2 separate regions of the Homo sapiens genome follow, and region 2 is linked to region 1. The links come from fine-mapping of genetic effects on gene expression. A gene starts in region 1. The other region holds a variant in brackets. All regions are shown on one strand. Distances are from middle to middle.

Evidence for each region. PIP is the estimated chance that this variant, and not a neighbour inherited with it, causes the effect. A credible set is the group of variants that fine-mapping cannot tell apart.
Region 2: its variant is the best candidate, but not a certain one, in a credible set for the expression of MYH9 in whole blood (TOPMed, PIP 0.56).

What each region holds. Positions count from the first base shown.
Region 1 is chr22:36,385,159-36,390,528 of GRCh38, forward strand. It overlaps MYH9 (myosin heavy chain 9), which reads right to left and starts at 2,809. Exons shown (of 41, transcript NM_002473.6): 1 at 2,649-2,809. MYH9-DT (MYH9 divergent transcript) reads left to right here and starts at 3,436. Exons shown (of 3, transcript NR_183573.1): 1 at 3,436-3,577. RefSeq lists enhancers at 1-681, 453-642, 682-1,395, 1,153-1,202, 2,826-3,120 and silencers at 1,833-2,062, 2,343-2,422, 2,453-3,032.
Region 2 is chr22:36,276,929-36,282,298 of GRCh38, forward strand. MYH9 (myosin heavy chain 9) reads right to left here. Exons shown (of 41, transcript NM_002473.6): 41 at 4,352-5,370. Among named protein-coding and RNA genes, the nearest start is that of MIR6819, 7.3 kb to the right of the region's middle. The variant G/A (reference allele first, on the strand shown) is at 2,505.

The DNA of each region.
Region 1 (5,370 bases):
GGTTTTTTTTTTTCTCTCTCTCTCTTTTTCCTTTGCTTTGGGTTTCTCTTTCTCCCCCTCCAAGAGAAGGGTAGGGCCAGGCTCAGAGGAAAACAACAGCCAACCCCTCCTCTCCTTTTGAAATAAAGATGTCAAGCTGGTAAGGGCTGTCTTAAGTACTTTATTGAAGAATTAGCTAGAAGAGGAAGTAAAGGAAGAACAGCCAGCCTGGTTTCTAGCAATACCCTACCAGGCTACACAACAATGCTGCATTTTTTTAGTGTGTTTTTCTTCTTTTAAAGAGCTAACAGATCCTTGTTTTGTTTTTTCTGGAGCAAGAGCGGGCAAAAGGCAGGCTGTGATTAACATGCGTCCTTCATCCTACGAGAGAGAAGTTGTCCCATCTCCAACCCCTTAGGTTAAAAAGTTTAAAAATAAAAGCAAGAAAGCCAGGGCCCTCCCTCTCCTCTACCCTCCTGAACCTTTCAGATGAACAGCCTCACCGAATGCTGCCCTTCTCTCCGGGGCTGGGGAGCTCCCCAGAGCCTGCCAATGCCGGCTCTCCAGACACCTGGCTCTGCCCACCTGCGCTGCCAGGGTTTGCTGAGTGTGGAGACTGAAGTTCTTTGGTGTCACCCCACAGTCATCCAGAGCGCAGTGGCTCTCAAATTACACTGAGCAATCTCTCCATGTTTTTAATTACCCCCCAATTATCCACTAAGTGGCTCCTCACTTTCCAACACCGCATGCTTGCCTCAGTTTGCCAAACCTGCAATGTGCTTCTCCCTTGTAGCAGCCTCCTCCTTGCCCAAGAGAAGTGGCCCCTCTCAGCCTTGAAATTCCTGAGTCCTTTGTCTATGGCATACTTGGGACACACATCACAGGCTGCCTTTGTATTTCACTGGTTCTGCCACTTTCCCCTTGAGGACTGTAAACTCCCCAAGGGCAGAGGCAGGGCCCCGGGGATTTCACAGGGCAGTCTGGCTCCCTTCTCCCAATCCCCATGACTCACAGTACCTTTCCGGGGTCCCTGTCATCTCTACCTCACGTTAGACTCATCTACAGATTTGTCTCAGTTCTCCCCTAAGTGCCCATGGGCACGGGCCAGGTCTTACTCAACCTCCCACCCCCCCACCACCTGGCAGAGTCCCTGGCACAGAGAGGGCAGTTAAATATTTGCTCAATTACACATCTGTGTCCCCTTCCCCCACACATAGCAGCCTTGTATATAAACTGACTATTATTAATTGAGTGATTGTCTCAAAAGGCCTCCCTCCTTACCAAAAAGGGACTCCTAAGCCATCAGGTGAGCCAAACACTGGCCCAGACAGTGTAGTTAGAATGGCCACAGTGCTGCGCTGCACGGAGAAGGAGCTAAGGCTCTCTTCCCTTTCCACGGTTACTCATCAGTCACTTTGAAATCCTGTTAAACCCAGAAAAGGGCGCAGTGAACCGAGAAGTGGCTGGGCCTCTCAACTGCCCGGTGGAGACAGCCGCCTGCCTCTACGACCTGGGACTTCCCAAGGAGTCTTCTCTCCACACCGGCTGGGTGGGGCCGTGCGCTCACCCTGCCCCCCACCACAGGACAGCCGGCAAGCTAGTGCTGGGGGTGCTGAGTCTCAGTTTGAAACAGCGGGGCTTCCCTGGAGAATGAGGGTGCCGCAGTCCTGTCTCCTGTGCGTGGCCCCAGAACAGGATGGGGTGAGGACCCCAGCACAGGGAAGCGGGTGCGTGGAGTGGAGAATAGAAAACTCCGATTTGGCTCAAACAGGAAAGATGCAATCGCCCAGGCCTGCTCGTAACGGCAGAGCTAGCTGCCCCCGCACCCCGCCCAGACGGGATGGCCCCTGGGTGCGGTGGAATCAGGTGCACGCCTGGGCGGCCCCGACGGCTGCTGCATTCCGGGCCTCCCTCCCCCGAGGATCAGAAGTCGGAGGTCGAGGGCTGGAGCAGGGACTGGGGGTGGCCCTTCCTGTCTCGCGCCCGGGTCCCCGCCGGGTCCCCCTTGTCCGGGCAGCCGCCGCACCTCCCCCGGGCCCTCCCCGACCAGTCCGACGGCAGCGGGCGAATGAGGAAGTCGGCCGCGGAGGCGGAAACCGGGCCGGGTGCAAGGTCTGCAGCGGGACGGTCCGACTCTGACTCAGGAGGACGCCCTGACAGCTGCCAAACGGTGCCCGCTGCCCGTTACCTCCGTGCCTCAGACGCCAGAAACTTCCACGGGAGCGGCTGCCCCGGGCTCCCAACCCGTGAGGCTGCGTCCCAGGGGCCGCGGCTCCCGGAAGGGGTTAAAAAGTTTGCCCGAGTCGGGCCTGGGCGAGGCGAGGGCGGGGCGCGTGCCCCAGCGGCTGGGGGAGGTCGGCTCCAGTGCCCAGTCCTGAGACCGCGCCGGGGGACACGGGGGGCGCCGGGGAGCGCCGGGTCCCGAGGCCGCCCCTGCACCCCTAGGCCTCGCTGCTGCCGGCGCCCTCCCCGAGCGCCCGCGTGGGGGTCCCGGTCCCCCTGGGAAGGATGCGGTGCCGGGCCCTGAGCCGCCGGCGTTCGCCCCCGCCCGCGCGGGTGGCGGGCCGCACTGAGCCCAAGAACCACCAGTCGGCCTGGCGGCAGCGCGTCTCGCCCCCGCCCGCCCGCCGCCGCCTGCCCGGGGCGGGACCGCGGTGGGGCTCGCTCACCTGAACCTGGATCTGCCCCGGGAACAGGCGCTGCTTCTCCCGAGAGGACTTTCTCGAGCGCTCGGGCGGCGGCCGGGTGGGGCGAGCGCACGAGGCGGGAGCTGCAGCAGGTCAGCCTTGCTTAGCCTTCCGTGCCCTGCCCAGGAACCGCGGTGATCTGCGCGCCTCACCGCACCCAGCTCGGCTCCTCGCCGCCTTCCCGCCCCGCCCTCGGAGCCGCGGGACCATTCCCAGCCGGGAGCCGGCTCCGGGGCGGAGCCTGGGGCACAATCCCGCCCCCTTCCTGCTACACCCACTGCAGGCCGCGCCTGGCCTTGATGGGCAGACGTATTGGCCTGTGGAAAGGGGGTGGGCGGAGCCTCTGCGGCCAGATGGGTGGGGATTCAACATCCTCTTTCCGCCCCACCTCCACCCGCTCCACCTTCCCCCGCGCTTCCTAGGCGGGAGCCCCGCCCTCTAGGGCGGGTCCAACGGACAGCCAGGTTCTAGGACAAGGATTGACACAGGGGGAATCCAATCAGGAGGCGGCGACTCGGGGCGCGGAGAGCTCCGGGCCGGGGTTTTGGTGCCTTGCCTGGGCCGGGGCGAGGCCCTGCGGGAGCCGACTGGGAAGGTCTGGAACTCTGACACCCCGCCCCGCGAGCTGTGCTCTCAGTCTCATGTCATCCCACCACAAGGACAGATATTAAGTACCATATATGGGAAAAATGCTATTTTACATAATTATGATCCCTGTGGGGGCGGGCATGGACTCAGCCCTGGATTCCATTGTGAGCGTCTTGAGTTCGATTCCTGACCCTGCCTCTTTAGGATCCGCACGTTGCTGCCTTTCAGCCTCCAAACCTTCGCTCTGGCCGTTCTCTCCACCTGGAATACCCTTCCGAGCCTCTCTTCACCTCCATGTCATTAACTCGCATACATCCTTTCAGGTACTTGTTACAAATTGCACTTTTTTTTTGTTACTGTCCACTACAAGAGGATAAAAAATGTTTTCATTTTTAAATGAAAAATCTTTTGATCCATTTGGAATTTATTTTTGGGGTAAGGAAGAAACCTAAGATAATTTTTGTAATAGCCACTTGTCCAAACACTGTTTTCTCCACTGATTTTAGTTGGCACCTTCATCGCCTATAGAACTATTATACTTGAAGCTGTTTCTGACTTGTATACATTGATCTCTCTGTGTGCACCTGTGCCAATCCCACCATGCTTTAATGAAGATACCTTTATAATACATTCTATATCTATGAGGGCAAATTTCTCATCATTACTCTTTCTTACTGGAATGTGCTTGCTATCATGACTATTCTTCCAAATTAACTTCAGAAAAAAGCTATGTTCTAAAGGCAAAAGAAAGCTGGGAAAAAAAGATTTTGCAACTCTGTGACAAATTACTATCAGCAATATATAAAGATCTCTTCCCAGTTGATAAGAAAAACCTCGGCCGGGCGCGTGGCTCATGCCTGTAATCCCAACATTTTGGGAGGCCGAGGCGGGCGGATCACCTGAGGTTGGGAGTTCAAGGGCAGCCTGACCAACGTGGAGAAACCCCGTCTCTACTAAAAATACAAAATAATTAGCCGGGCATGGTGGCCCATGCTTGTAATCCCAGTTACTCAGGAGGCTGAGGCAGGAGAATCGCTTGAACCCGGGAGGCGGAGGTTGCAGTGAGCAGAGATCGTACCACTGCACTCTAGCCTGGGCAACAAGAGCATAACTCCGCCTCAAAAAAAAAAAAAACAAAGAAAAAGAAAAAGAAAAACCTCAAAGACTCCAAAATAAAAATGGCCAAAAACAGGAACAGGTGATTTTAAAGAAGAATTATAAATGGCCAATAATTATTTTTAAAAAGCCATAAGAAATGCAAACAAAACAACATAAAATGCCATTTTCACCTAATTAAAAAAAAAATGCTCAATATTGGTCAGGTTTATAGATACAGATGAGAAAGTAAATTGATCAATTCTATCTGAGAATTCATCTTAAAAGACATTAGAAAAGTACACAGATATGAACTTTAAAGTTCTTTGCAGCCGGGCGCGGTGGCTCACGCCTGTAATCCCAGCACTTTGGGAGGCCGAGGCGGGCGGATCACGAGGTCAGGAGATCGAGACCATCCCGGCTAAAACGGTGAAACCCCGTCTCTACTAAAACTACAAAAAATAGCCGGGCGTAGTGGCGGGCGCCTGTAGTCCCAGCTACTTGGGAGGCTGAGGCAGGAGAATGGCGTGAACCCGAGAGGCGGAGCTTACAGTGAGCCGAGATCCCGCCACTGCACTCCAGCCTGGGCGACAGAGCGAGACTCCGTCTCAAAAAAAAAAAAAAAAAAAAAAAAAAAAAAGTTCTTTGCAACATTGTTTATAGTCACTAAATGTTAGAAATAAATGTACAATATATTACAAGATTGAATACATTGTGATATAGTCATATGTCGAAAAGTACAAAAAAAGTCATTAAAATTTTTATGTAGATTTGTATTTGCTGATTGAAAATATACTAAGTGGCCAGACGCAGTGGCTCATGCCTGTAGTCCCAGCACTTTGGGAGGTAAGGTGGGAGGATTGCTTGAGCCCAGGAGTTCAAGACCATCCTGGGTAACATCGCAAAATCCCATCTCTACAAAAAATACAAAAACTAGACTGCCATGGTGGCGCACATCTGTATTCCCAGCTACCCAGGAGGCTTAGCTGGGAGGATTGCTTGAGCCTGGGAGGTTGAGACT
Region 2 (5,370 bases), 110 kb before region 1:
CCTTGTTATTAATTCTTGTACCTAGGGATCATTATTTAAAATAACTTACATAATTCTCCCCATTTTGGCTTTAAAAACCTCTGCTTTCAGCCGGGCGTGGTGGCTCACGCCTGTAATCCCAGCACTTTGGGAGGCTAAGGCGGATGGATCACCTGAGGTCAGGAGTTCGAGACCAGCCTGCCCAACATGGAGAAACCCCATCTCTACTAAAAGTACAAAATTAGCCGGGCATGGTGGCACATGCCTGTATTTCCAGCTACTTGGGAGGCTGAGGCAGGAGAATTGCTGGAACCCGGGAGGCGGAAGTTGCAGTGAGCCGAGATCGCGCCACTGCACTCCAGCCTGGCTACAAAGCGAGACTCCGTCTTGGGGCAAAAAAAAAAAAAAAAAAAAAAAAAACACCACCTCTGCTTTCCTTTGTCTCCCTGAGTCGGCCTGTGGTCCCACCATGGGGTGTCCTGGCACATCATGTATTCCCAGATTTACAAATCCTTCTGCTCATTCCAGAATAAACTTGTTATCTTCAGAGACTCCCTTTCTGTTGTTATTTTAGGTTGACGACAGACTCCCTGAACGTAATCTCATAGTGGAGCAACCAGAATGGGGACTGCAGACTCAAATCCAGGTGAGAATCAGGTGTCTCTTAACTTCAGGGACGTGGGACGTGAGCAGAGACCATCCATTTGGAGATTCCGAGGATCTAGTGACTAAGAATAGGGCTCAGTTTCACCATCAACACCGCAGGAAAATTCACCCAGGATGTCTGCAGCTCCAGAGGAGGGGGCTTGGGCCAAAATCTTGGGTCCATATGCAATTTCGGCCACTGAGAAGGCAAACCCAACTCGAAGGGGGAAATGAACCCTGAAATTGCTTTGGAAGATGTGCGGTGACATCGCCAGCACCACCTAGTGGAAGCTGGAAGTGTGGACAGCCCTCCTCACAGCCACCACCCCCACCCCGCCCTGCCCCGCCAATGGAGAGGTGTGCTTGGCCAGGTCATGCCCGATGTCATTGTCTGTGTGCACCATGACAGGGACCCCAGCGCCCTGTTCTGCTCTTTTTCAAGGCACCCTGGAAGGAGGTGGCGAGCTTCAAGCTGGGCATTTGACAATGGGGGCTTCTGAAGGCATCAGTGGCTAGCGGAGACAAACAAGCCTAGGACTGCAAAGTGCAGGGGAAGGGAATTGTGTTTCATGCCCACAGCCCCTGGGGACCCCATAGGAGGCTGAGGGAGCAGCCACTGGTCCCGGCCACTCACAGCCCGGCCACTAGCAGTGTCTCATGGACAATCCTTTTTGTCTTTCCTCATATGGAAAAATTGGGCCCTGAGTAACAGGTGTCAGCTTCAGGAAGGTTCAGAAGTAGGTATAAAAATGACAAACACAATCAAGCTCATATTTTCCTGCTGAAGTCTAGACAAATGTGTGTTTCATTTTGATGCACATATAACATTTAAGAGAACTGGACTCATACACAGAGTTAACAGAGTAGTTTTTGGATTCAGATTTGAAATAGGTAATCGAGTAATTGATATAGATGCAGGATTTCAGCTTGAATGCCTCTCTGCTAGTAGGTACTGAGGGTGCTGCAAATAAGCTTTAGCCCAGGGAGAGGGAGAAGCATCTAGCTCAGTGGATCCCAAACAGGAGAAATGAGGAGTGGAGGGTAGGGAGGGTGCTGTGAGCACCCACAGCAACAGGATCTCTGGAACATGCACCAAGGGACATGCGCCAACCTCTATCCCCTTCCCTCCAGCAGCCAAGAGACAAAGGAGACTCTTGTCTGGAGTCATTGCGGTGCCAAAGCATGACCTTAAAAATGATAGCAACTTAGCTGGGCGTGGTGGCTCACGCCTGTAATCCCAGCTCTTTGGGAGGCCGAGGTGGGAGGATCACCTGAGGACCTGAGGTCAGGAGTTCGAGACCAGCCTGGCCAACATGGTGAAACCCTGTCTCTACTAAAAATACAGAAATTAGCCGGGTGTGGTGGCAGGCACCTGTAGTCCCAGCTACTTGGGAGGCTGAGGCAGGAGAATCATTTCAACCCGGGCGGCAGAGGTTGCAGTGAGCTGAGAGCGCACCACTGCACTCCAGCCTGGGTGACAGAGCGAGACTCTGTCTCTAAATAAATAAATAAATAAAATAATAGCACTTAGCTGCTGTGGAAAACTATATGACGGTTCTTTGAAAACTTAAACATAGAATTACCATAGGATCCCTCAATTCCACTTCTGGGAATATACCCAACAGCATGAAAACAGGGACCTGACCAGATATTTGTACAGTCATGCTCATAGCAGCATCGTTCACCATAGCCAAATGGTGGAGGCAACCCAGGTGTCCATTGACAGATGAACGGATAAGCAAAATGGTACGTGTACCCACAGGGAATATTATTCCGCCTTAAAAGAGGAAGGAAATTCTGACCCATGCTGTAACAAGGATGAACCTTAAGGACATTCTGCTAAGTGAAATAAGCCCGTCACAAAAGGACACATGCTGTAT[G/A]ATTCCGTTCATGTGAGGTTCTTACGGTGGTCAAATTTATAAAGATAAGGAGCAGAGTGTTGGTTGTCAAGGGCTGGGGGAGGGAGAATGAGCAGTTCATGTTTACTGGGTACAAAGTGTCAGTTTTGCAAGAGAAGAGTTCTGTGGATGATGGTGGTTGTGCAACAATGTGAATGTAATTCCACGAAACTGTTCACCTAAAAATGGTTAAAAAGGCAATTTTAGGTTATGAATATCTTACAGTTAAAATCTTTAATTAAAGTCCTTTCAAAGCCCAACCTTTGCAGAAAAAAAATTATAGCACCTGAGCCCTTTTTGGTTTGCAGAACATTTTCACACACATAGTCATACATGCTTCAACGACGGCCCTGTGATAAAAACATTTATTAATTTGGCTTCCCAGAGGAGAAAACTAAGGTTCAAATGGGGTGAAACGGCCAGGTGTGGTGGCTCATGCCTGTAATCCCAGCATTTTGGGAAGCCGAGGCAGGTGGATCTCCTGAGGTCAGGAGTTCGAGACCACCCTGGCCAACATGGCAAAACCCCATCTCAACTAAAAATACAAAAATTAGCCAGGTGTGGTAGTGCACGCCTGTAGTCTCAGCTACTCAGAAGGCTGAGGCACGAGAATCACTTGAACCTGGGAGGCACAGGTTGCAGTGAGTCAAGATCGCTCCACTGCTCTCCAGCCTGGGTGACAGGGACTCTGTCTCAGAAAAAAAAAAAAAAAAATCCAGGTGTGGTGGCTCACGCCTGTAATCCCAACACTTTGGAGGTCAGGAGTTTCAGATCAGCCTGACCAACATGGTGAAACCCTGTCTCTACTAAAAATACAAAAAAATTAGTCAGGCATGGTGGCGGGCACCTGTAATCCCAGCTACTCGGGAGGCTGAGACAGAAGAATAGCTTGAACCTGGGAGGCGGAGGTTGCAGTGAGCTGAGATTGAGCCACTGCATTCCGGCCTGGGTGACAGAGTGAGACTCCATCTCAGGGAAAAAAAAAAAAAAAAGATTCTGACAAAATGCCATGAAGATCGTTTGTAGATCTTGTCTTGCTAAAGTGGAGTTGGATTCAGAGGGTTGGGGGCGGGGTCTGAAATAGTTTCTAAGCAGTTCTCACGTGGAGCCAACGCTTCTGGTGCAAGGACCGCCATCCAGCAGCAAAGATCCAGTGTACTTTACTTAACAGACAAGGAAGCTAGCCGGGAAGGGAGTGACTTGCCCAGGGTGACAGGGCAGGGTGGCACATAGGAAGCTAAGGGCCAGGGAATGTGCATGCAGCTGTTTTGCCAAAAATCGGTCACCTTCTTAAGCTGACCCAGATAGTGTCCACTTTTTTAAATTTTTTTATTTATTTATTTTGAGACAGAGTCTCACTCTCGCCCAGGCTAGAGTGCAGTGGCACAATCTTAGCTCACTGCAACCTCTGCCTCCCGGGTTCAAGCGATTCTCCTGCCTCAGCCTCCTGAGTAGCTGGGATTACAGGCACACACCACCACGCCCGGCTAATTTTTTTTGTATTTTTAGTAGAGATGTTGGCCAGGCTGGTCTTGAACTCCTGACCTCAGGTGATCCCCCTGCCTCAGCCTCCCAAAGTGCTGGGATTACAGGCGTGAGCCACCGTGCTCGGCCTTGAACCAAGGTTTCTAAGATGCTCTTAGCCTCCTTGGATCTGGCCTAGCCCACCTTTCCATCTTAGCTTTTCTGCACAACCGCCCACAGCTAGCTCAGCCTACGCCTCAGCCAATCTGGTTCCCGACGATGCAGAGCCGGCATTGGCTGCAGAAGCCAGGCCTAGTCCTGTCCAGGGCCCCCTGGCCGCAGACAAATGCTACAGACACGGCTCGTAGCACATGGTTCTCTTTATTGTGATGCTCAGTGGAAAACATCTGTAAACCAGCTTACTGTAGTGGTGACAGCTGCAACACATGCTAAGGCACTTTTATTATATAAAAAAGGGGGTAGGGTGGGAGTTTCACTCACTCCTTTGTGACAGCAACTGGGACCTGAATTCAGAGCTTTGTAGGCATATGCAGCTTTTATATCACTTCATGATTTGAGAGTTTGTTTCCTTTAAAAAAAAAAAATGCCTTCTTGCCGTAAGTCTCAATGCAGCATATACAAAACAGTTAGGAATACAAGTAAATTCGGCAACCAGTGTAGACCAGTGAGGACGAGCTACTCTCTTCTAAACAAAGGCAGTGAGAAAGACTCGGAATTTTATCATTTATTACAAGAAAGGGGAAAAAAGAAAACCTTATTTTGCTTTCAAAAATACCTGTGCAGGTGGCAGATTTTTAAACTATACTGAGTCAACGGTGCAGGTAAACCACCCTCGGGCCCAGTCCTAGAGTAGACACAAGATCGCCTGGGAGGGCCGCTGGCCCCTCTAACGCTCTGGCTGTCAGACTTGGGACAAGTCCCTTAACCATTAAATATATTTGGTCCCCAAGAGTGTTGGGAGAAGCCACTGGAAGGCTGCTGGCCTTTCCAGCTTGACCCCGACAGCCTTGCTGTGGCAGAGGCAGGCTGTCCTCGGTAAAGGAGGGGAGGGGGCATTGCACTTGAGACATTTTAGAATCAGGAGGGAGACAGCGGACAGTGGCGCTGCCTGGGACAGGGTGGGGAGGAATCCACTCCTCCCCCCACCCCAGCCTTCTGTGCCCTGCACAGAGGTGGAGGCCCAGGGCCTGCTCCTTCTGGACCGCCCAGAGCCATGGGAGTGGGAGGCCCAAGGGGCAGAGGTGTGTGAGGTCACCACGTGTGATTGCAAACAGCAAAGAAAGGAGGAGGAGTGGGGGCGCTGGTGGCAGACGTCAGGGAGGCTGACGACTGCGGGGGCTCCGACTACCAAAAGGCCTCAGTC